Linked DNA regions of Homo sapiens. The protein of the gene in region 4 purifies or fractionates together with the protein of the main gene of each other region. This does not show direct contact. Each region holds a gene or a part of one and is shown on either strand. Other genes may lie near its edges. The genes, in order: SRRM1, BPTF, DHX15, DEK, TSR1, PTPN12 and CAPRIN1.

What was found.
Region 1: the proteins of DEK (region 4) and SRRM1 purify together in Homo sapiens (affinity purification with western blotting; 2 studies listed by BioGRID, with this or other methods). This does not show direct contact.
Region 2: the proteins of DEK (region 4) and BPTF fractionate together in Homo sapiens (co-fractionation; one large-scale study listed by BioGRID). This does not show direct contact.
Region 3: the proteins of DEK (region 4) and DHX15 fractionate together in Homo sapiens (co-fractionation; one large-scale study listed by BioGRID). This does not show direct contact.
Region 5: the proteins of DEK (region 4) and TSR1 fractionate together in Homo sapiens (co-fractionation; one large-scale study listed by BioGRID). This does not show direct contact.
Region 6: the proteins of DEK (region 4) and PTPN12 fractionate together in Homo sapiens (co-fractionation; one large-scale study listed by BioGRID). This does not show direct contact.
Region 7: the proteins of DEK (region 4) and CAPRIN1 fractionate together in Homo sapiens (co-fractionation; one large-scale study listed by BioGRID). This does not show direct contact.

The regions. Positions count from the first base shown.
Region 1 is NC_000001.11:24,649,802-24,653,301, forward strand, and holds part of SRRM1 (serine/arginine repetitive matrix protein 1), read left to right. Parts: intron 1-169; coding exon 170-285; intron 286-1,607; coding exon 1,608-1,811; intron 1,812-2,632; coding exon 2,633-2,827; intron 2,828-3,111; coding exon 3,112-3,231; intron 3,232-3,500. UniProt on the Homo sapiens protein: Part of pre- and post-splicing multiprotein mRNP complexes. As a component of the minor spliceosome, involved in the splicing of U12-type introns in pre-mRNAs. Involved in numerous pre-mRNA processing events.
Region 2 is NC_000017.11:67,944,003-67,947,502, forward strand, and holds part of BPTF (nucleosome-remodeling factor subunit BPTF), read left to right. Parts: intron 1-147; coding exon 148-370; coding exon of another isoform or gene 371-482; intron 483-1,406; coding exon 1,407-2,323; intron 2,324-3,500. UniProt on the Homo sapiens protein: Regulatory subunit of the ATP-dependent NURF-1 and NURF-5 ISWI chromatin remodeling complexes, which form ordered nucleosome arrays on chromatin and facilitate access to DNA during DNA-templated processes such as DNA replication, transcription, and repair.
Region 3 is NC_000004.12:24,539,555-24,543,054, forward strand, and holds part of DHX15 (ATP-dependent RNA helicase DHX15), read right to left. Parts: intron 3,473-3,500; coding exon 3,386-3,472; intron 2,469-3,385; coding exon 2,319-2,468; intron 1,395-2,318; coding exon 1,286-1,394; intron 746-1,285; coding exon 554-745; intron 1-553.
Region 4 is NC_000006.12:18,254,531-18,258,030, reverse strand, and holds part of DEK (protein DEK), read left to right. Parts: coding exon 1-78; intron 79-1,575; coding exon 1,576-1,670; intron 1,671-2,179; coding exon 2,180-2,300; intron 2,301-3,500. UniProt on the Homo sapiens protein: Involved in chromatin organization.
Region 5 is NC_000017.11:2,326,458-2,329,957, reverse strand, and holds part of TSR1 (pre-rRNA-processing protein TSR1 homolog), read left to right. Parts: intron 1-482; coding exon 483-615; intron 616-747; exon of another isoform or gene 748-833; intron 834-3,500. UniProt on the Homo sapiens protein: Required during maturation of the 40S ribosomal subunit in the nucleolus.
Region 6 is NC_000007.14:77,599,795-77,603,294, forward strand, and holds part of PTPN12 (tyrosine-protein phosphatase non-receptor type 12), read left to right. Parts: intron 1-869; coding exon 870-1,012; intron 1,013-3,500. UniProt on the Homo sapiens protein: Dephosphorylates a range of proteins, and thereby regulates cellular signaling cascades. Dephosphorylates cellular tyrosine kinases, such as ERBB2 and PTK2B/PYK2, and thereby regulates signaling via ERBB2 and PTK2B/PYK2.
Region 7 is NC_000011.10:34,093,231-34,096,730, reverse strand, and holds part of CAPRIN1 (caprin-1), read right to left. Parts: intron 253-3,500; coding exon 58-252; intron 1-57. UniProt on the Homo sapiens protein: mRNA-binding protein that acts as a regulator of mRNAs transport, translation and/or stability, and which is involved in neurogenesis, synaptic plasticity in neurons and cell proliferation and migration in multiple cell types.

The DNA.
Region 1 (3,500 bases), on a different chromosome or scaffold from region 4:
ACCAGTCTTAATGCGTATCTGTAGTGTAGGTGAAGAAAGAACAGGTCTGGTTCAAAAGAAGAGGCCGATGAAATGATAATAGCATTGGTGTTTAACACACGTAGAAAGTAGTCTTCAGTTTGTTCTCAAATGTTCAACTATGTGTATTTTGAAAACCTGGTCTTTGCAGATTGAACAAGAAAAACTGGCATCTATGAAAAAGCAAGATGAAGACAAAGATAAAAGAGATAAGGAAGAAAAAGAAAGCAGCAGAGAAAAAAGGGAGCGGTCTCGTAGCCCAAGAAGGTATCATACAATAGATGCATAACTGATGTTTTACAGGTACTTTAGGTCTTAAGAAACTTCCTTAGTTAAAAAGGAATCTAACAGCGCTATTCAAGGAATTTGTTCCATCATGCAGTTTTCATGGTGACCTGTGCCTTGCCTCTGGACTAAAGAAATCTGTCATATTTTGTTTGAGACAGATAATTTAGCCATGAGTGTCTCGCAGATGTTCATAAATTATCCAACTCTAAATTCCTAAATCAAAACTTTAAACTTTTTCTTCCATATTGCTTTAGTTCATAACAGTTAATTTGGGTTTTTAAAAATGTACTCTGACTCACTTTTTCTTTCCATTTCCTTTCTTCTAAAAAGAAATCTGTACTCGAAATCTGTACTCATTAGCCGTTCATGTAATACTTACCTAATTCCCTGTTCTGCTTTTCTTAGATGGTTGTACTGAACCCAAACTTCAGATCATTTATTTGTTTTCTTCTTCCAGTGAGACTATTGTTAGGTTCACATTTTTAAATCCACGGCTCAGCTTCTATATTTGTGGTGAAAGGTGAGAACTCCATTAGGCTTTTTATTTTTAGGGTTCTGCTTATTTCTTTCATAAATGTCTGCTGGAATTAGTAAAGAGAAGAGGTAATTTCTTTGTCCCTTTCATTTATATATTTGATACTAAAATCTCCTTATGGAAGTAATATTTATAGAGCTAAGCACAAATTGTCATGGTGGTAACTACTTGACTATTGATGAAGTATGTCTGCCATTTTCCTTCTGTGTGAATAAGAGAAAAACCCTTCGAGTTAGGCAGGCTACTGTTAAGAAAGAGGGCTTCTCCTCTCGCAAAAAAGCTATCTTCTGGATGTTTGATGTATATTTCTCTTTTCTGAAGAACATGTTGCTTTAATGGTATTAGTCATTTTTCTGGCATACTGAGGCTCTTCCTGATGAACTCCATTGTAATCTGTCCGCATCTAAATGTTTTATGTTTGGGAGTTTGATTTGTTGTCAAGGATTATCATTGTTTGCTTTAAAGCATCCTCTTTGCCTCTGAAAAGTTGGTCTTTTGATCTCTGGGAATGATTAAGAACCTAAGTCTAGAGTCCCAAGTTAGTGCTTTTCTCCCTTATAACTGATATACTCGAGAATGTTATCTTTCATTTGCTTGTCTTTCTCTTCCCTGTCAAGTAGATTAGGTTAGCATGTCTTATTTCCATAGGGAAACATCTCAGATATAAACAGTAGTGTAACTAAAGATTAATCCTCACTTCTCCCTTTGACTCCTCTCTTCCAATCCATGTTATTTAAAAACCTGAAAAAAATTACTTTCATCCTAGACGCAAATCCAGATCTCCTTCCCCTAGAAGACGATCTTCCCCTGTCAGGAGAGAGAGAAAGCGCAGTCATTCTCGATCTCCCCGTCACAGAACCAAGAGCCGGAGTCCTTCCCCTGCTCCAGAAAAGAAGGAAAAAACTCCAGAGCTCCCAGAACCTTCAGTGAAAGTAAAAGAACCTTCAGTACAAGAGGCTACTTCTACTAGGCAAGTATATAAAAATTCATTTATAAATAATCACAATTTTAGATTAATAGTGACTGCAAATATGACATCTGAGTTAAAATAAAACTACTTATTTTCCTTTTAGATTTTTTAAATTATAAAATTAGTTTGTTGAAAAGAAATTGTTTAGGAGAGTATATTAGAAGAAAATGCCCCAGAGGGTGACCATTACTATCTTTTGGTTGTATTGTTTCAGGTATTTTATATATTGTAACTTGCTTTTTTTCCTCAACGTATTGTGGACAACTTCGCACTTTTAAGAAATGTATGTGGTTGCCAGATGCGGGGGTGCATGCCTGTAATCTCGGCACTTGGGGAGGCTGAGGTGGGTGGATCGCTTGAGCTCACAAGTTAGAGAGCAGCCTGGGGCAACATGGTGAAACTCCATCTGTACTAAAAATATATATATATATATATATATATATATATATATGTACACACACACACACAAATTAGCCGGGCATGGTTGGCACATGCCTATAGTCCCAGCTACTCAGGAGGATCACTTGAGCCTGGGAGGTTGAAGCTGCAGTGAGCCAAAATCATGCCAGTACACTCCAGCCTGAGTGACAAGAGTGAGACCCTGTCTCAGAAGAAGAAAAGAAAATGTACATGGTTGGAATTATTAGTTGCTCTCTGGGTTTCAGTGATAGGTACATACATACTTATGTGTCTTTTGGAGATAGAGACAAGTCTGTGAATTTTGAAAAGTTTTAGAAATACTTTATTACATCATTGTGTAATGATTTAGAAGGCTGAGTACAAGAAGGCAAAAAAAAAAAAAAAAGCTTTTGTTTCCACAGTGACATTCTGAAAGTTCCCAAACCTGAACCTATACCAGAGCCTAAAGAACCTTCTCCGGAAAAAAATTCCAAAAAAGAAAAGGAGAAGGAGAAGACCCGACCACGATCTCGGTCACGCTCCAAATCAAGATCCCGGACGCGGTCCCGCTCTCCTTCTCACACTCGACCTAGACGGCGCCATAGATCCCGATCAAGGTGAGTTGTGGCTTTAAGATCAACAAAGATCTTAGGTTTTATATACTACTCTACTGGGTACAATTAGATAAATAATTTCAAAGTGGTAGAAGATGTTTAGTACAAATATTTTTTGAATGTACACAGAGAATTTGAGGACACTTTTCTGTGTACCATAAAAATCTACATAAATGGAAAATTTTGATCTTTGAAATTTATTTTTTAGATGTGGCCATTGAGAAAACTAAGCCAAGAAATTCCTCACTCCTGGTTTATTCAGGACCTAATTCTCTTTGTTATGGCAGATCGTATTCACCTAGAAGGCGGCCAAGCCCAAGAAGGCGGCCATCTCCTCGAAGAAGAACTCCGCCAAGAAGAATGCCTCCTCCACCAAGGCATAGAAGGAGTAGATCTCCAGTAAGACGGTAAGATTTTTTAAATTTGGAAGTGTCAAGTGTTTGACACTTCTGGATAATCTTTCTTTTAGGATAATCTGTAAATTAGTGTCCCCTGGAAGAAAGAACTGATAGGTGATATTAGACAATGTCTTCTAAAGAGTCTGTTTCATTTGAAGTGTAATGCAGTTGTTCGTGTTATGAAAAGTGTCTAGTCTGGTGTTGGAAAGTAAACGAGAAATTCATCTTATTGATACTTTTCTGTTAACTTTTACCCTTCTAGACTTCACCAAGAAATC
Region 2 (3,500 bases), on a different chromosome or scaffold from region 4:
TAGCTTATCTAAATTCCTGCTGGTGACATTCAAATATGTATTTTCATTATATTAAAAGATAATTACACATAAAAATGATTTAATAAAAATGATATACATACAGATTGATGCTTTGAACACTGTTTACATGTTGTGTTTTTTCCACAGGGTGGCAATCAAGGTTTGACAGTAGTAATTCAAGGACAAGGTCAAACTACTGGACAGTTGCAGTTGATACCTCAAGGGGTGACTGTACTCCCAGGCCCAGGCCAGCAGCTAATGCAAGCTGCAATGCCAAATGGTACTGTTCAGCGATTCCTCTTTACCCCATTGGCAACAACAGCCACCACAGCCAGCACCACCACCACCACTGTTTCCACGACAGCAGCAGGTAGAGCTGTGGGTTTATCGGAAATGTCGGATGTTACTACTACACGTGGCTGGGCTAACAGAGGCCAACAGGAGAACCAGTATTTACCTTTGGAAGGATATGCCTCAAGCCAGTGACCTCAACAGTTGACATAGTCAGCCTCACAACGTCTCGAAGCTTTTGTACCCTATTCTTACAGACTCCCTGTTACCACCACCCTCTCCCTCCTATTAAAAAAGAGAGAGAGAGAAAGGGGGCAAAAATAATGGTTATCTTGGTAACTATGCCCACACTTACTCCTTGCTAAGCCTTGTAGGTGCTGATTCAGTCATGGAGGTGATCTCAGGGAGGGTGGGTAAATCCAGTTCATGACCTCAGATTGAGAGTGGGTCCAGAACCACTTTGTTGACCTTCTGCTGCAAGTCATTGTAACTAACTACCACCACATCATGGGAGAAAAGTGAAGCGTGGCAATTAGCCTGGGCCAGATGACCCAGCTGATTTCCAGAGGCTGCAACTTACTTTGGAAACCAGCCCTCTAGAGTTAGGAGAGTGTACAGGGGACAGCCAAGAAGCAGGGCCCAGGCTTCCCAGTTTCAGAGCGTCCTGCCCTAAGCGTGTCCAAATGGAGCATTTCAAAGGCATAGACCTTCTGTACCAAAATACAAAATTCTCAACTTTATTTACTTTATTTATTTTTTCGAGACAGGGTCTTGCTCTGTCGCCCAGGCTGAAGCGAAGTAGCACCATTACTGCTTACTGTAGCCTTGAACTCCTGGACGCAAGCAATCCTCCCACCTCAGCCTCCCACGTAGCTTGGACCATAGCCATGCTCCACTATGCTCAGATAATTTTTTATTTTTTTTGTTTTTGTGTAGAGACGGGGTCTCACTATGTTGCTCAAACGATCCTCCCACCTCAACGTCCCAAGGTGCACAGGTGTGAGCCACCACGCCTGGCCAGAATTCTCAACTTCAGAAGATTTCCTTCAGATTCTTCTTTAACCACAGTTTTATGTTCCAGAGTAATAGAAATGGTTCATCTTTCCTTTTTACAGGTACAGGTGAACAAAGGCAGAGTAAACTGTCACCCCAGATGCAGGTACATCAAGACAAAACCCTGCCACCAGCTCAGTCATCAAGTGTGGGTCCAGCAGAAGCCCAGCCACAGACTGCTCAGCCTTCAGCTCAGCCCCAGCCCCAAACCCAGCCCCAGTCCCCAGCTCAGCCTGAAGTTCAGACTCAGCCTGAAGTTCAGACCCAAACAACTGTTTCATCCCATGTCCCTTCTGAAGCACAACCCACCCACGCACAGTCATCCAAGCCCCAAGTTGCAGCACAGTCTCAGCCTCAAAGTAATGTCCAAGGACAGTCTCCTGTTCGTGTCCAAAGTCCATCACAGACTCGAATACGTCCATCAACTCCATCCCAACTGTCTCCTGGACAACAATCCCAGGTTCAGACTACAACCTCACAACCGATTCCAATTCAACCACATACATCTCTTCAGATACCTTCCCAAGGCCAGCCACAGTCACAACCCCAGGTACAGTCTTCAACTCAAACTCTTTCATCAGGACAAACTTTAAATCAAGTTACTGTTTCATCCCCATCCCGTCCTCAGCTACAAATACAGCAGCCACAGCCCCAAGTCATTGCTGTGCCTCAGCTGCAACAACAAGTCCAGGTTCTCTCTCAGATCCAGTCACAGGTTGTGGCTCAGATACAGGCTCAGCAAAGTGGTGTGCCCCAGCAAATCAAACTCCAGTTACCTATCCAAATTCAGCAAAGCAGTGCTGTGCAGACTCACCAGATTCAGAATGTGGTTACAGTGCAGGCAGCCAGTGTGCAAGAGCAGTTGCAAAGGGTTCAGCAACTCAGGGATCAGCAGCAAAAGAAGAAACAGCAACAGATAGAAATTAAGCGTGAACACACCCTCCAAGCTTCTAATCAAAGTGAAATCATTCAGAAACAGGTAAAGTTATTAAGTAAAAGCAGCATGTTCAGTAGCTTGAATTATTGTGCTGTGCAGTAGAATTAGTGTTTGGTTGTGTTAGGTTTCCTAAATGAGACAAAGTCATTAATGTTTAAATTTAGAAGAAACACTGAATTGACCAAAAAAAATACTGAATGACTACTGTGGTGTGGAACACTTCGTTAGATACATATAATATATAGTCAGTGCTTATTAGGAATGACCTGTATTTTGGGAGGACTAAGATGGGAAGAATGGAGTTATGAGCTTTAATCTTTAATATAAAACTTGAGGGTTTAACTAAGTTTTAAAGCCACTTCAGACATTATAGCAATTCCTTTAAAGTTATTGAAAGTTGTCATTCCTTAGTTTGCATGTAGACTATGCAAATTATAGACAGATTAAACTCATTTGCATTTCTAGCCACACCTTTGTAAAAAAGTTTTTGAAAACATATTATTTCATAGCTTAAGTAAAAAGTGGCATCATCCAGCAACATCTTGCAATGGCACATTAGTGAAATAAAGCAATTTAGATGAGTTAGAATTAGTCTACTAAAGTGAAGTCACACATATAACATCTGATAACATTACTGGCAGAAACCATCTTTTCATCTACCTATAGCTTGCTTCGCTCAGCACTAGGCAGGAGTTTGAATGTGGATTTTAAGTGTTACCAAGTTGTGAGACCTTCATTCAGTTCCTAGGTCTCCCATTCACAGTCCGTGAAACTCACTTATCCCTCCTTAGCTATAGCCTCTTAAAACCCTTCTCTTTCCAGCCACATGAGATTATTGCAATGATTAAATGAGGTCATAAATGTAGAAGCACTTTTTACACAGCGAAGTTATTTTAAAGATGTAGTATTCTTATGAAAATGACGGTCATATATATTATATTTAAATGTATTATTACCCAGCTTTACTGTGTATCTATAAACTGAGAATTACTACACTGTCTGTCTATCCGCTAATCTTTGTATAGGGGAGACGAGGGACAGTTCTTTAAAATTCATTCCTGGGAAGAAAGCATAATGTTAAAAATACGGCCTTTGGAGAAGGATAGCCAGGTTAAAATTTCAGCTGTATTACTTACTGTTTGTCAAACAAGGTGGTTAATTTCTTTATGTCTCAGTATCTTGTTTATAAAATTATTGCTATGGTTCAGTGTTGTTGTAA
Region 3 (3,500 bases), on a different chromosome or scaffold from region 4:
CTACCATTGTAAAAGAATACCATTATCAGATTAGATTTTAAGCCTAAAATTATACATTACTATTTCTATTTACTTGATATGAAGTTTGAAATTCATGTTTGTTCGGGTGCCATTGGAGTACATATATAGAAAAGGCTCAACTTAATGTATAGCTTTCAGTTTGTCACAGGCACACTTAATAGAGCTAAGTACTAGAGCAAAGTTCTTCCTGTACTTGCAGTAAAAAACAAAAAACAAAAAAACCACAAAGATAGCAGTGATGGACCTTTAACCAAAGAATTCAGTTACAACTGTGCTCAAACTTACTGCAATTTTTATTAGCACTCAAGAGAGCCAATGCTTTACTTATCTTTTGTGCACAATGACTTACTTTACTTTTGTAAGCACTATGTCATTACGAAGCTATTTACAAGGTATTTAGAAAACAAAATTAATTCCTTAAAACCATCTATAAAATCCACTATCATACTAAAAATTAAAAAACAAAAACAAAAGTGAAGTCCACCCAAACTTTGAAGAGCTGGGCTTTTTTTTGTTCCTTTCCCTCTATTACCTGACAACATAGCAGTAATAGATAGGACCTCATTAGAACAGTTGTAGTCACAACTTGCAATAACCATTTTTGCGAGCTGTGGATCTAGAGGAAACTCTGCCATCATGGATCCCAATTCAGTCAGATCTCCATCATCATTTAAAGCAGCCAGGTAATTCAAAAGTTCCAGGGCTCTCATCAGAGTTTCAGGAGCTAGTGGTAAAAGACAATCTATTAGACACGGTGCCTTAAGCAAGCAAAAATGTGACAAAGTACAAACTATTATAAGCAATCTCATTTTTCATTTTGCAGTGGACCAAACTCAAACTCAAACTGTCATCCAATTCAATTATACAGATCTAGCAAACAATGAATCATAAAAACATTGCAAAATTTTCCTGTAGGCAAAACTGTCTTCTTCCGAAATACATTAAATAATTGCTAATTCATCAATGTGTTTATCAAACTGTTTTTCCCCAAAGAAAACTTAGGAATTCTCACATTTTCATGCCCAGAGGATAATTCAATTTACCCAAACCCCCCCATAATAACTTTTGAAGAAAAAAAAAAAATGTGCTCATATAACTGTCACCTTTTTTAGTTTTAATGCTATCATGTAAGACTTAATCTTGATGCATACTGGATGGAAAAAGCAAAATGTATTTAATACATATATTAAATAGGATGGAGAAAAACACTAAGAGTCAATTTTGGTTAAAAGATCTGATAAAAATGTGTTTTGATAAGTCATACCTGGTGGATCCATAAAATCAAAATGTACCAAGTCATCAATACCAAGTTTCTTCAATTGTAACACAACTGATCCTAAATTAGAACGCAAAATCTCAGGATAGGTGTTATCCTAGCAAAGAACAAAAACATTTATTGGTTATGTTAAAAATGCCTCAGTCTCCTCGTTCCAGAAAACAAAAATCTGCTGCCTCCTGAGCTATTTGTTTTGGCATTACTTCTACACTGTCTCAGTAGAGATAAATACTTGTAGGCTAGACTAGAGAGAAACCATTTTTCTCCAACTATCTTTATAGTATTCAGTGTTTGCTACTGTCCATAAAACTCGCAACTGCAGAAAGAAATTCGTATAGTAGTCTTCACTCATCTGAACTCGCAATTTCCATGGTTTCAGTTAAGCAGTGTCAACAGAAAAAATTTTAAAGATTCCAGAAAAAATTCATCAAGTTTAAATTGTGCACCATTCTTAGTAGTATGCTATATACACTATACACCCATTTGTCACTTAGCAACCATCTGTTATTAGATCAACTTTTGCAGTATCACAGTGCTTGTGCTCAAGTAACCTTTTACTTAATAATGGCCCCAAAGCGCCAAGAATATTGATGCTGGCAATTTGGATATGCCAATGAGAGGCCCTGAAGTGCTTCCTTTAAGTGAAACGCTGAAAGTTAGTAAGGAAAGAAAAAAAGTTGAAACCTAGTAACAAAAGAGCAAAAAAATCACATCTAAAGAAAGAATGCATCTTCTATCAGTGAAATTGTAAAGAAAGATATTTATACATAGTATATGTAAGTAAGGTTCAGCATATTCCAGTTTTTAGGCGTGGGAGGGGGAGGGTCTTGGAATGTATCAGCCTGGAATAAGGGGGTGTACGACTATCTAAGTTAATTACACCATACATTTCACTCCTGGAAAAGCTAAGGAGCTTTTAATCCTAAAAGGCAAGATTAAGTAAATAAGGCAATGTTCTTCTGGTAAGATAATTCAACCTAACATTTTAAACATATCGGCAGGAAACGACAATACCCCATACCTGCATTTCTGTTTTATAAGCTTTCTCTGTGTAAAGTCTGAAGCATTTTCCAGGTCTGGTACGTCCAGCTCGACCAGCCCTTTGCTGAGCTGAAGCTTTACTAATAGCTGTCACCAAAAGGGACTCAACTCTGATTCGAGGATTGTAGACCTATTGGAATTGAAATAACACAAGAGTCTTTCTTCAGTCAAACACAAAATTGTGATGCAACAGAAGTATCCAAAGCCCACAGTTAATTCCAAAATAAATAAAGAAATATCGATAGCCATAAATCATGCTGCTACAATAGACAACCCACCATCCTGAACCTTAAAGTTCTTTCAGACATTCTAATTCGATCATCTGAAAGACTCTAACATGAAAAACTTCTTGTCAAACACACAGCTTATATAATCCTTACTCCTCCTAATTTCAGTTCTATCAGGCTGACCTTGTTCCTTGCTTTTTATATGCTGGGCAGTCAAGGATTCTGCCCGAAAAGAAACCTTCACTTTCAAAACTCGACGGTCTGAGTACTATTACTCTGTTACTGTTTAATGAAAAAATTTCCATCAATAACAAAATGTAATCAATTTATCCAAAAGATATTTGAAAAATAAAACGTATTTATTGAATAGCCACTTCACCTGCATTTCACTTCATTTAGTATACAGCACTGTTAAACTAGAGGAGTAACATAGTACTGTTTTCAAATAGTGTGCCTAGTTGACAGCAGTAACTCTAATAATGTTGGGAGAAGTGACTGAACTGCAGGGATAGAAATCCTGTACTTTATTACTAAACCCATACTGTTAAATGAATATACAAGCCAAAACACCCACCGTCACTACACTGAAACAAAGAAAGCAAAGCAACTCTAAAAGAAAAAAAAGCCTAGAATTACATATTAAATACTGTCTTAATTTCTGAGAGCCAGCCAAAACATAAAGGGTTCATACAGCAGAAATTTGCAAATAAAAAAAAAGATAGGAAAATAATTCTGAAAGGTAAATTTTAGCCATTAAATGAATTGGTTGTAAGTACTGTTAAACCAACTCTAATTTATAAAGTATCCACTAAATATGTACCTTCTGTTTCGCAAATCCAGGATCAATCACAAACACCACACCATCTATTGTCAAAGACGTCTCTGCTATGTTAGTTGACACAACTACCTGTTAAGAAATAGAGTATATAAATTAT
Region 4 (3,500 bases):
ATACATTTTTTTCTAAGTAAGAAGAAAACCGATGAACTTAGAAATCTACACAAACTGCTTTACAACAGGCCAGGCACTGTAAGACCTTTTTACACTTTAAACCTACTTGTATATTACTTCACAATGGAATCAATTTCTGTAAATGTTAGTGATCCACTAGTTCAATTTCCACACTTTATGACTGAGCAGACTGAGGTATATACTTATTAAATGATTTATCACAGGAAACACAGCTGGATATTAGCACTTGGATTATAATATCCAGGGCTCTGTCTTCTTTTTTCTTTTTCTTTTTCTTTTTTTTTTCTTTCTTTTAAGACACGGTCTCACTTTGTCACCCAGGCTGGAGTACAGTGTGCAATACATGGCTCACTGCAGCCTCAACCTCCTGGGCTCAAGTGTTCCTCCCGCTTAAGCCTCCCAAGTAGCTGGGACCACAGGTGCATGCCACCATACTGTGTCTGGCTAATTGTTTTACTTTTTGTAGAGGCAGGGTTTTGCCATGTGCCCAGGCTGGTCTTGAACTCCTGAGCTCAAGTGGTCCTCCCACCTTGGCCTCCCAAAGTGTTGGGATTACAGGTGTGAGCCAGTATGCCCAGCTCTAGGGCTCTTTCTCCTGTAGTAGTTTTTATTCCAAACTGAAATTTCAAATTACGAAATCCAAATTGTGATGAAAGGTTTTAGTGACCTTTAAATGTATTGAAAGAAATTCATGTTTTTGGATTTTCTCGACATTCAGAATAAGTGAATGTCGGTATGATTTGTATGAGATCATACATATGATCTCATTTGTATCTCATACAAATAAGAGGCAAAATCATTTGTATCTCATACAAATCTCATACAAAGTGAATTTGGTGTAATTGTATCTCATTTTTAGCAAATACCTGATAAATTGGATGATAGTTCTTTGCTAAAGGATTGTTATTATACTGTACATATGACTTAGTATATTATATAATCGAGGGAACTGCTTTAGGTTGTACGTGGGCAAAGTAAAGTTGGGTGTTAGAATGTCTGAAGTAGAATAGAATGTCTGGTGCATGACATAATTTATTTTCAGTGAGTCTGTTAATCTCATTTAATCCTTAAACCAATTTAATTTACACAAGTCCCATAACTAGTGAACGGTATTAGCTTTTTGTGGTACTCGCTATTCTTTACTTTGAAAGAATAAAGTCCTTCTTGATTTGGAAAAGAAGAATTACTAGTAACTTTATTACTTATGAAAAGGATATATTTTTAAATAGTAACTTTCCACATCCCCTGGTACTGTCAGGTAACTTTTGGTTGTGGTAAAAACTCCCCAGTGAAAATTTGTTCAAATTGTTCTTTTCAGAGACTTAAGTTTGTAGGATTTTTATAATGTTAATATGTTAATGACAAATACATTTTTCAGTTTTGAATAAGAAATGTTGAATATTGAACCCATATTGAATTGGTTGACTGTTCAGCCAGTATTGTAACTTACAGACAGGTATGAAAATAAAGATGTTGACTTTGAATTGGCTTTGAATTTATTCTTGTGTACATTACTGGGTAATAAATACCATTAATAATAAGGAACATTTTCAGGTGTCCTCATTAAAGAAGAATGTGGGTCAGTTCAGTGGCTTTCCATTTGAAAAAGGAAGTGTCCAATATAAAAAGAAGGAAGAAATGTTGAAAAAGTAAGTTATTTTTATAAATACTGTATTTTGATCAATATGCTTTAAGTTTATTTTTTAATGTTAAATCACATTCGGGCCAGGCACAGTGGCTCACACCTGTAATCCCAGCACTTTGGGAGGCTGAGGCGGGCGTATCACCTGAGGTCAGGAGTTTGAGACCAGCCTGACCAACATGGAGAAACCCCGTCTCCACTAAAGATACAAAATTAGCCGGCTGTGGTGGCGCATGCCTGTAATCCCAGCTACTTGGGAGGCTGAGGCAGGAGAATCGCTTGAACCTGGGAGGTGGAGGTTGCGGTGAGCCAAGATTGGGCCATTGCACTCCAGCCTGGGCAACAAGAGCGAAACTGTCTCAAAAAAAAAAAAAGAAAAAAGATTCATAGAAGCATTGGCCACTTTTTTAAATGTATGTAACTGAGCCAATTTGGTTGGCTTTCCCTTTATATTGTGGAGAACATATGTAAGCTTTCCTATATTAACACCTTGGTTTCTTCCATTTTCTGTTTCAGATTTAGAAATGCCATGTTAAAGAGCATCTGTGAGGTTCTTGATTTGGAGAGATCAGGTGTAAATAGTGAACTAGTGAAGAGGATCTTGAATTTCTTAATGCATCCAAAGCCTTCTGGCAAAGTGAGGATCAATTTTTATTTTTTTCATAAATCAGTTATTCATAGCCTCTTTATATGAAACAAAAATTGATTAATAACAGCATTGCTGTCAGTATTCGTTCATATCTACATTCAAAGACTATACCTTCTGTTGACGTATCTGCAGTAATTTCCTGATAGAAATAATATAGATGCCATAGGGGTATGTTGCTTCGGAAAATCAGATACAAGGGATATAAGGTTAAGAATAGTGAATTAATGTCAGAAGGGACAGAAAGTACTAGTAGTCAGGGTTAGGTATCTAGAAGACACTGGAAGAATAGGAAGAGGTTGGGCTGAGGATGAGGTGCAAGGCTGGAGGGAAGGGGTGCAACCTGTAATCAAGTGAAGACAAAATAGGGAGTATATTAGAACTGGATGTTTTCCTAGATCCTGGAATAAAGTATTAAAAAGTGACATTTAAAAGCTAACTCTTACAAGTTTCCTATATTGGGTTTCCAGAATCTGCAGCAGAGCCCAGGAGCCAGACAGGGAAGTAAAATGGCCTTACAGTTTTCTCACTCTTCCTAAAAGCTAGTAGGTTTGCCCTAATTATTTAATGGTAACGAATGACATAGGTGACTTAAAATGTCTGTTGAAGTGTTACATGACCTTGCCTTTTTAGTGTGATTTAGGTCTGTCAGCAAATGTTTTTATATTCTTCCCCATCTTGACAGGAAAGGAAGTGTGAGAGATCTAGCAGGCCTAGGAGTTCAGGGGAATGCCATCTCTGATGGGAGATGGCATTAATCAAAACCAGAAAATAGCTCTAGGACTTCGTTTTCGTCCGCCCTTGGTCCTTATTACCATTAGCTGCACGAGGACAGATAAACAGCAGTTAAAGTGTAAACTTTTGTTATACAACTACAAACGCAAGGGGTATGATGATTTTTGGTGTTTTAAATTGGCTTGTTTAAAGACAAAATACTTCTTATTTTCTAACTTTTACTATAGCTATACTTGTACTTTTTAAGGATTTAGTGTGAGGCAAGGTGATCACTATTTCCTCAGAAGCAATTTACTAGGTTGTTATGACAGATATTTTTATATTTATCTTTTTCTCAGTGGTTTTCCAATTTATTGGTTTCAGGATACTGTTGCCCTCTTAAAAAATTAGTGAGGACCCCAAGAGCTTTTTTTAATATGAGTTATTTTGATCTTCACTGTATTTGACATTAGAACT
Region 5 (3,500 bases), on a different chromosome or scaffold from region 4:
ACAAGAGCGAAACTCTTATGTCAAAAAAAAAAAAAGTTTATGCCAAAGTGCAGATCTCTTTTCTCTTGGTGGCCAGTAGTTGTGTATGTTGTGGGGTATGTGATAGTTCTTTGATCGGTTTTGGTAAGGGCTCAAGAAGAAGGGGCTTGAATGAGTGTGGTTTTGAGATTGTGGTGAGTGAATGCCTTGAAGGCCACTGATTTTTGTGTGGCAGATGTTGAGCTCTTTTCTGTTAGGTGCAGGAAGGTAGGTTAGCATTGAAGGGTGCATGAAAGCTCTGATCAGCCTGTGTTTGGCTTAAATGCCAGTCATTGGTGGAGGTAAAGGATGAACCCGTGTTTCAGCATCTACACTCCACCATTAATTAGCATTGTCAGTTCTTAGAATGAGTCTGAATCTGCTAGTTTGGTTTGCCTTCTTTCAGTTTAGGCAATTGTATTCCTAGACTATGAAGATTTTTGTTTTTCTTACTTGGTCCCCAGATGTCAGTATTGAATATGGTGGTGAGGCGTGACCCTGGCAACACTGAACCTGTGAAAGCCAAGGAAGAGCTCATATTTCACTGTGGATTCAGGCGCTTCCGAGCCTCACCTTTATTCTCTCAGCACACTGCAGGTTAGCAATGGGGAAGCTGGGTTCTTGTCCATCTTGTCTTTTGGGAAAGTGACTTGTGGTGGAGGGGTGCCAAAATATATGGTTTCAAAATCTTACATCTCTGGGTTAGAGGTATTTTCAGTACTCTGGCTTAAGAGCCAATGATGTTTTTATTCAAAATGTCTGAACCTGTCTGAAGCATCCCAGTGATGCAACTTCTGTGTGATACTGAGGCTTTTTTGCCATGAGTATTTGTTCCATAGCAGGTTTTGAATAGAAGTTGGCAGCTTTATAAAAAGGGTATTAGGGTGGGTGCAGTGGTGCAGTGGTTCACACCTGTAATCCCAACACTTGTGGCATTAGAACGGGGAATTGAAGACCAAAAAAGGTAAGATTTAATCTTGTTTTTGTTTCTGTTTTTTTTTTTTTTTTTTTTTTTTTTTTGAGACGGAGTCTCACTCTGTCGCCCAGGCTGGAGTGCAGTGGCGCGATCTAGGCTCACTGCAAGCTCCGCCTCTCAGGTTTACTTACACCATTTTCCTGCCTCAGCCTCCCAAGTAGCTGGGACTACAGGCGCCCGCCACCATGCCCAGCTAATTTTTTGTATTTTTAGTAGAGACGGGGTTTCACCGTGTTAGCCAGGATGGTCTCTATCTCCTGACCTCGTGAGCCGCCCGCCTCAGCCTCCCAAAGTGCTGGGATTACAGGTGTGAGCCACCGCGCCCCCTCTTGTTTTTTTTGTTTTTTTTTGTTTGTTTGTTTGTTTGTTTTTTTGGAGACGGAGTCTTACTCCGTTGCCCAGGCTGGAGTGCAATAGCGTGATCTCGGCTCACTGCAACCTCCGCCTCCCGGGTTCAAGCAATTCTCCTGCCTCAGCCTCCCGAGTAGAGTAGTTGGGACTACAGGCATGCACGACCATGCCCAGCTAATTTTTGTATTTTTAGTAGAGATGGGGTTTCACCATGTTGGGGTTTAGTAGAGATGGGGTTTCACCAAGACCAGGAGTTCAGGCTGGTTTTGAACTCCTGGTCTCAGGTGATCCGCCCACCTCGGTCTCCCAAAGTGCTGGGATTACAGACATGAGCCAATGTGCCTGGCCTCTTTTTTTTTTTTTTTTTTTTTGAGACCGAGTCTCACTCTGATGCTCAACTGGAGTGCAATGGTGCAATCCAGGCTCACTGCAACCTCTGCCTTCCAGGTTCAATCAGTTTTCCTGCCTCAGCTTCCCGAGTAGCTGAGATTACAGGCACCCGCCACCACGCCTAGCTAATTTTTGTATTTTTAGTAGAGACGGGGTTTCACCATGCTGGCCAGGCTGGTCTCGACCTTAGGCGATCCTCCTGCCTTGGCCTTCCAAAGTGCTGGGATTACAGGCGTGAGCCACTGCGCCTGGCCAGTCATTCTTTTATTGTTTCAAAATGGTTTTGATTTTTTTTTTTAGGATGAACTATTTTCATATTTTATACAGTTGGGAAAATAAGGAATAATGTAAAAGTAAAATTACCTTATATTAGAGAAAATTCATTTTTATTTTATACATTTTCATCCAGATCTCATTTTTTTTCTTTACACAATTTGGATTGTAATTGTAAATATGGTGTTAAACATTGCATTTATCACTTAATTGATTTTGATCAATTTTCCATAAGATTAATTAGTTAATGAGACTTTTAATGCTTTATTGTCATTTGGATATATTCCAGTGTATGTGATGTACTGATACTTATTTGAGCTTCTACGGGTGAGCACTTAGGCTATTTCTAATGTTTTGCTCTAAACTAGATCTGTATGCATAAAACTTTATTTACTTCTTTGCTTATTTTGTAAAGGCAGATCCTTAGAACTGGAACTAAATAAAAGTCTCAGTTGCAGAGACTGAGGCAGGAGGATCGCTTGAGGTCAGGAGTGTGAGACTCCGGTCTCTACAATTTTTTTTTTTTTTTTTTTGATATAGAGTCCAACTCTGTCACCAAGGCTGGAGTGCAGTAACATGATCTCAGCTCATTGCAGCCTCCCCGTCCCAGGTTCAAGTGATTCTGGCGCCTCAGCCTCCCAAGTAGCTCGGACCATAGGTGTCTGCCACCACGCCCAGCTACTTTTTGTATTTTTAGTAGAGATGGGGTTTCACCAAGTTGGCCAGTCTGTTCTCAAACTCTTGACCTCAGGTGATCCACGTGCCTTGGCCTCCCAAAGTGCTGGGATTTATAGGGATGAGCCAACATGCCCGGCCTCTACGAAAAAAAAATTTTTTTTTTTGGGAGATGGAGTTTCACTCTTGTTGCCCAGGCTGGAGTGCAGTGGCAGGATCTTGGCTCACTGCAACCTCTGCCTCCTAGGTTCAAGTGATTCTCCTGCCTCAGCCTCCCAAGCAGCTGGGATTACAGGCGTGTACCACCATGCCTAGCTAATTTTTCTATTATTAGTAGAGATAGAGTTTCACCATCTTGGCCAGGCTGGTCTCAAACTCCCGACCTCAGGTGATCCACCCGCATTGGCCTCCCAAAGTGCTGGGATTACAGGCATGAGCCACTGCGCCCGGCCAAAAATTTTTCTTTTTAATTAGCCAGGTGTGGTGGCATGTGCTTTGCAGTCCCAGCTACTTGGGAGGCTGAGGCAAGAGGGATTGCCTGAGCCAGTGGGCCCAGGAGTTTGAGGCTCCAGTGAGCTGTGTTCACACCACAGCCCTTAAAATATTTTATTTTCCTATAAGTTTAGTATTTTTAAAAGGGGGGTGAGGGCTACATTGAAGGTAGAACACCAAATACAGTCTAGCCTAGATAGCAGAGTGAGACACTGTCTCTCAGAATTTAAAAGGGTGTGATAAAGTGTGGAAACTTTGATGTCTAGTGTGCCAAGGGCAGTGTGGGTGAAGGAATGGAGGCTGGGTATGGCTCATAGTTGGGTAA
Region 6 (3,500 bases), on a different chromosome or scaffold from region 4:
GTATGGTTTGCTTAGATTCCGAGTATTGCTCTTTCTGTTAAACACCTGCAATAACCATTCTCAAAACATTTGACATCAGTACTCCTTTACATTCTTCAAAGTTATTGAGGATCCCAAAGTTTTTGTTTCTGGGGGTTGTATCTTTCAGTATATACTATATTTGAAATTAAAACTGAGAAATTTTTAAAAAACATGAATACATAAGCATATATTGTATTGGCTGTTAAAGAATAAGGCACGTAACATTTTAGTATTATTCTGAGAATTATTTAAAGCTCATAGACTCCCTCAAAAGGGTTGAGGGGAGGGGGTACCCAGACCGTATATTGAGAACCACTAATCTGTAAGAAGACTAGTGAGTTTGGCATTGGACAAATTCATCTCTCCATTCTTTTTCAGTTTAATGTTCTGTTAGTCTTCTGATTACAATGAATACTACTCTAACCTACTCTAACATGGTGCTTACGGTATATTGCTCATCCATTTAATAGTGTAGATTAGTTAAATAGTATATATAGTGTTATGTTTACAGTACATGCTCTGGAAGTAGAACTGCCTGGTTTAGAGCCCACACTTGTCACTTCTTAGGAAAGTTTGGGCAAGTTATTTTATCTGTATATCTCAGTTATAAAATGAGGATGGTATTAACAGTACTTTCCTCATGGAAATTAAATTGTTACATGTGAAGCCCTTAGGTATTTGGCATGTGTTTAACAGTCAATAAGTGTTGGCTATTATTTATTTGGGTTTTTTTAAAAGCAGTGCTAAATGCCACACAAATTTCTTAGAAATGGCAGTTTAAATGAGCTGTGCAACTTTAAACTTTGCAAAGTATTTTCATAATTGTTGACTTTCTGTTTTTCTTGAAGGAATCTCGTAGGCTGTATCAGTTTCATTATGTGAACTGGCCAGACCATGATGTTCCTTCATCATTTGATTCTATTCTGGACATGATAAGCTTAATGAGGAAATATCAAGAACATGAAGATGTTCCTATTTGTATTCATTGCAGGTACAAAAGAATTTCCCAAGTTTATAAATACATTATTTAAGTTTGATGTTACACAAGGTTTTATTTCTGCATTAATATGTTAGTAATCTTGAATTTCTCCTAGCCTTGATACAATGTTTGGGACTAGGGCCTTGTAAGTTGATGTGGTCTCATTTGGTTGACAGACCGTTTAGAGTATTGTTGCATTAAAACACAGGATCATCTATTTGAAAATAGTATTCACATGGTGGGAAGCTATAGAACATACTCTTTTTACTGTTCACTGATTAGAGCATATAATCTCAGATCCTCATCATACTCTACTTTCTAAAGTCAGTATGGTAGTATTTTCTTTTAATCAATTTCCCTGAAACAATGACCAAGCAATTTTCATTCCTGATAAACACTGACATGAGATTTTTAAAAACAGGATATTGCTCTGATGCCCAGGTTGGAGTGCAGTGGCACAATCATAGCTTACTGTAAACTCAAACTCCTGGCCTGACGTGATCCTTCTGCCTCAGCTTCCCAAGTAGCTAGGACTACAGGCATGTGCTACCACACTGAACTAATTTTTTTTAATTAAAAAAAATTTTTTTTAAGAGACCAAGTCTTGCTCTGTTGCCCAGGCTGATCCGAACTCCTGTCCTCAAGTGATTCTCCCACTTTGCTCTCCCAGAGTCTTGGGCTTACAGGCGTGAGCCACTACGCCTGGCAACATGACTTTCTTTTTTTAATATATGTAAGATGTACATACGTAGGTCTTATTGATCTAAGATATCATCAATTCTAAGACACACCATTATTATATATATTAACAGTAAAAAAATCACTGCCAATTATAAGGGGACAATGTCATTTGTAAGAAGCCATTGGTGGTAAGATACATACCAATCTCAGAGCTGTTACATTGAGATGAAAAAGTGTGTTTTAGTTTGATGAAAAACTAAATGCTGTTTTTATTCTTGGGGAACATCAGTTTCCACGTTTGCACCACTTCCTGTCATATCATGAAATTTTATAATTTATAGCTACTGAAAAATTTAAAGCCGGAAGCAAGCATTCTTGTAGTAAAGTAATAAAAACTATTGATACACATTTACTAGACATTTTTATTATGTTTTATAGTAGATTACTTCATTATAAGGATTACATAAAATTCAATGATTACTGACCTAGTTAAGCTACCTCTGAATGTGAAAGGACAAGTATAGGTGCACCTACTTTAAATTGCACAATATAAATCTTTTCATTTATTCAAATAATATTTGAAGTTCAGTTAGGTTTTGCAAAATTACTCGTTTGGATGTGTTAAGAAATCATGTAAACTCTTCCTTTGACTTTGGGGGAATGAACATGAGATTTGTTTATTCTTGGGGGGCAGTTAATTTTGTATTCTAGAAGGGGGGTTAATGTATAATATATTTTAGCTAAGAGAAATCAGTTTAAGATAACCAACTTTTCTTAATCTAACATTTTGGCTTATTTCTGTCATCTGGTCATTCTCATACAAATAATACAAAGCTAAATATACATAATACATATGCACATATATGTATATGTATACATTATATGTAATACATAAAACAAAGCTAAATTTGTATTATGGATTTAGGAGTGTAATGGAAAATACCCCTTTAAGAGGAAAAGCACAAAACTGAATTAGTCAAGAAAATAATAAATGTTTGCAATAAGTGTCATGACCGGGTATAGTGGCTCAGTGCTTTGGGAGGCCGAGGCAGGATGATTGCTTGAGCCCAGAACTTTGAGGCTGCAGTAGACACCAATTACACTACTGCACTCCAGCCTGGGTGACATAGTAGACCCTATCTTTTAAAAAAAAAAAAAGAATATAGGTATCATTATAATATGGGTGATACAGGATATTTTGAAACCTAATTTTTGGAATTTCATTATATAGGTATGGGTTTCTACATAGTAGAAGCTACTTGAATCCTTAGACAGTTTTTCTACTCTGAATTTTTAGTTTACATTAGATTCTTCTAAAGGCCTTACAGTCATAGTACTTACTTCATAAGACTGCTATCAATTTATTCCTCTAAGGGACTTGTTATCTGCATTCACATTTGTTATAAAAAGTAAATGAGATTTTTCAAACTTAAGAGATTTATTTTTTATTATTTACATAGTTAAAATATTTTTTCAGTGGAGTTGAAGCATTGAAGATAGTTTTCTTATTCACTTGGTTTGACCGTAATGCTCATAATTAACGAAGTAAAAGGGCTACTTTTTATTCATGGGCCAGGAAAGTAACTTGCTGGTGGAGATGTGGGAATCAGTTAACAACTTGGTTCATTAAAACTATTTTTTTCTGTGGTTAATTCAGTGGTTAGTTGACCATTTAATTAAGTAGGATTGACCAGTTAAAAATAAACAATATGTTTAATTATAGAATTAAAAGATAAAGAAATTGCTTTCACTTTGACTTCTTATAAGTTAGTTAAAATAATTTCCTGTTCAATCATAAATCCATTTGTATAGGAAGGCT
Region 7 (3,500 bases), on a different chromosome or scaffold from region 4:
CAAAAAATAATTTGAACTAGTAAAAGGTCATTAGAACCTCCTTTTTTATTTTTTTACCTCTGAATCCATTGGCAGGGCCCCGGTATCCATTCATCAAGCCTCTAGCACCACGGGAGCCTCCACGAGACACACCACGACTATTGTAATAGGGCTGATTGCTACGTGGAAATCCAGTGTTCTGCTGAGGAGGCTGCTGGTGGTTACCAGTCACTTGATGGGACTGGTCTGGGGAACCATGGTAAGTGCCAACCACTATAATTTAAAAAAGAAAAAGATATATACATAAACAGCTCATTACCGTTTGTTCTCCCACGCACTTTCTAGTTTAAGAAGTGTCTTATACAGTCTCCTTAAAGTTTAATCCTTAAATTTGCATACAATGATAAGAAAAACTACACATGAATAAAGTCTCTTACCTTTCTCCTACCCTTAGACTCAGCTATTGGGGGTAAAATTCTCCAACCACAATTCCAAACCTTTGAAAGCAGGGTGCATGATTGATCCTTCCAAACAAATTATTTGAAAGGCTATATTAACGTCTTCTGAAAGGCATCTACTTTTTAGCACAAGAGACCCAAAATAACTCAAAAGATTTACTCTTAGTACATTACCATTTTGTACCATTTAATTACTTCTTTTCATTATAAAGCTCCTTAGTGGTAGAAGTTTTCTTATTCTTTTAAATATCCTTTTTTTTACTTAGTAAAACATACAAAACCACTCTCTCATATTTAAGCAGCTAGATGGTAGAATATGTCATCAACTACATAGTTTAATCAGCAGAGGCCTTCGACTTGTAGCCCTTAATGCCAAATTCCATTTCAAAGTATTTAAAATGGCAAGTATAGCCAATTTAGAAAACAATCACATGGTACTCACATTGGCACTCAACCCACTTGAAGGTTCTAGACTAAGGTACACACTAACATATATACAAGCTCCATCCACAATGGACAGAGTTCTAGAATCTAGAAATTTTCAAAAATTCAATACTACAGAACAATGTTTATAATTCAAAGAGGAGAAAAAAATAGGGTGCTAAAAGTACCTTTGGGAGGTGAGGAAGGCAACAGAACAAAGGAAGGCCCACACACTAACAACAAGGGTCAGAAGCTGCTGGCCAACCCAAATCTCCCCTTTTGGGGCAGAGAGAAAAGCAGCTGTATGACTCTTGAAAATCTTTACTTGACCTATTTTACACCCTTAAGAAACTCCAAATACATTAATAGTTGTTAGAATCCTATTTTACGATGAAAGCACTAGGGAATACCTAGAGAAAAAGAGAGAGCCACTGCTCCTCTTGAATTACTTAGTAAACCAACTACATCGGTGTCATCTTTTTACATAGATTGCCTTTTATTATATTCCCAAAATTTAAAATTGTAAGTGAATGACAAATACACATAACATTTTCCTTGTAAAATGGTTCATGTGTATCCATGTACAAAGTAGCCAAAAGAACTGAATTTTAGAATCATTTTATCAATAACAGCTTTTAATCTTGATCAAATCTCACTGTAAGAAATTCATAGCCAGGCTGGGTGTAGTGGCTCACACTGGTAATCCCAGCACTTTGGGAGGCCAAGCTGAGCAGATTACTTGAGCTCAGGAGTTTGAGACCAGCTGGGCAACACAGTGAGACCCCATCTCAACAACAACAACAACAACAAAATACAAAAAATTAGCCAGGCATGGTGGTGCATGCCTGTGGTCCCAGCTACTTGGGAGGCTGAGGTGAGAGGATGGCTTAAGCCTGGAAGGAAGAAGTTGTAGTGAGCCGAGATCGTACCACTGCACTCCAGCCTGGGAGACAAGAGCAAGACTCTGTCTCAAAAAATGAAAGGAAAAAGGAAAGGAAAGAAAGGAAGAAACTCACAGCATAATAACTTAAGTGTGATCTTTATTTTATTTAATTTTCACTTTTAAGACAAGGTCTAGCTCTCTCACCCAGTACTGCTGAGGTTGGAGTTCAGTCAAATAATCTTGGCTCACTGCAACCTTGAACTCCTGGGCTCAAGTGATCCTCCGGCCTTAGCCTCCTGAGTAGCTACAACTACAGGCATTCACCACCTCACCCTGCTAATTTCTGTATTTATTTTATAGAGGTGGGGCTCTGTGTTGCCCAGGCTGGTCTCAAACTCCTGGTCTCAAGTGGGCCTCCCAAAGAGCTGGGATTACAGGCGTGAGCCACCACACCCAGCCTTCATTTTATTTTAAAATACCCAAATTCCTACTTAAATTTTGGTAAAGTATAAACTTGTAGGCCATTTTAAAAAGCCAAAGATTCTGTCATGTTGTTCCTGATTAGACACTAATTCAAAATAAAATTTCTAAAATGATGGGACATACTGAAATGATTTCTTCAACAAATATCAGGCCGGGAATGGTGGCTCACGCCTGTAATCCCAGCACTTTGGAAGGCCGAGGCGGGTGGATCACCTGAGGCCTGAGGCAGGAGGCCGAGGCAGGAGAATCGCTTGAACCCAAGCGATTGAACCTAAGAGGCGGAGGTTGCAGTGAGCCGAGACTGCATCACTGCACTGGACAACGGCCCACAATGTATACATATTATTTCATCATGAACGCCTGGCCTCAAGCAATCCTGCCACCTCAGCCTCAAATGTAGCTGGGATTATAGGTGCCAGCCATGAAGCCCGCCCACAACGGACACACATTTCAACACATCATGCTGTATACCATAAATACACATATATATAGTTTCTACTTCTCAATTAAAAATAAACAAATGAACTTTTTTTAAAAAAATAGAAAAAGCAATCCATGTACTTATCAGTGGGAGAAAGTTTTCGGCAAGAAGGAAAGTAAGTATGAAGGCCCTGAGATTAAAGAGAACTTGCTGCGTATGTGACTGGTGTTCGAGACCAGCCTGGACAATATGGTGAAACCCTCTCTCTACTAAAAATACAAAAAAAAAAAAAATTAGCCAGGCATGGTGGCCTGTGCTACTTGGGAGACTGAGGTAGGAGGATCCCTTGAACCCAGAAGCAGAGGTTACAGTGAGCCATGGTGATCACACCACTAGTTTTTATCATTTGGAAGCTGAGCATAGTATAACTGATAACTTCTATCAGAGTATGGAAGATTCGAGCTTCATATTAGTGATACTGAATACTACAGGATGTGTAAGAATTTACTACTGAAAAATCTAATGCTGATCCAAGTTTACCAAGAAATTGAATAATTAGAAAATTTTACAACTTTTCAAAATCGGGCTGACAAAATGAAAGTATTAACTCCTCTGACTGCTGGTTTGTTGTGGGATTCCAATTAAATTCTGAGGAATTAAAGAACTAAAGAAGACATCATGGTGGCTCATGCCTATAAGGTAGAGGTGGGAGGACTGCTGGAGGCCCTGAGTTTGAGAAAAGCCTGCAGTCCAAGCTACTTGTGGGGAGTTAAAGGCTCCAGTACAGGATTTGAGCCCCAGAGTTAAAGGCTCCAGTATCTGATTACACCACTGCACTCCAACCTGGGCAACA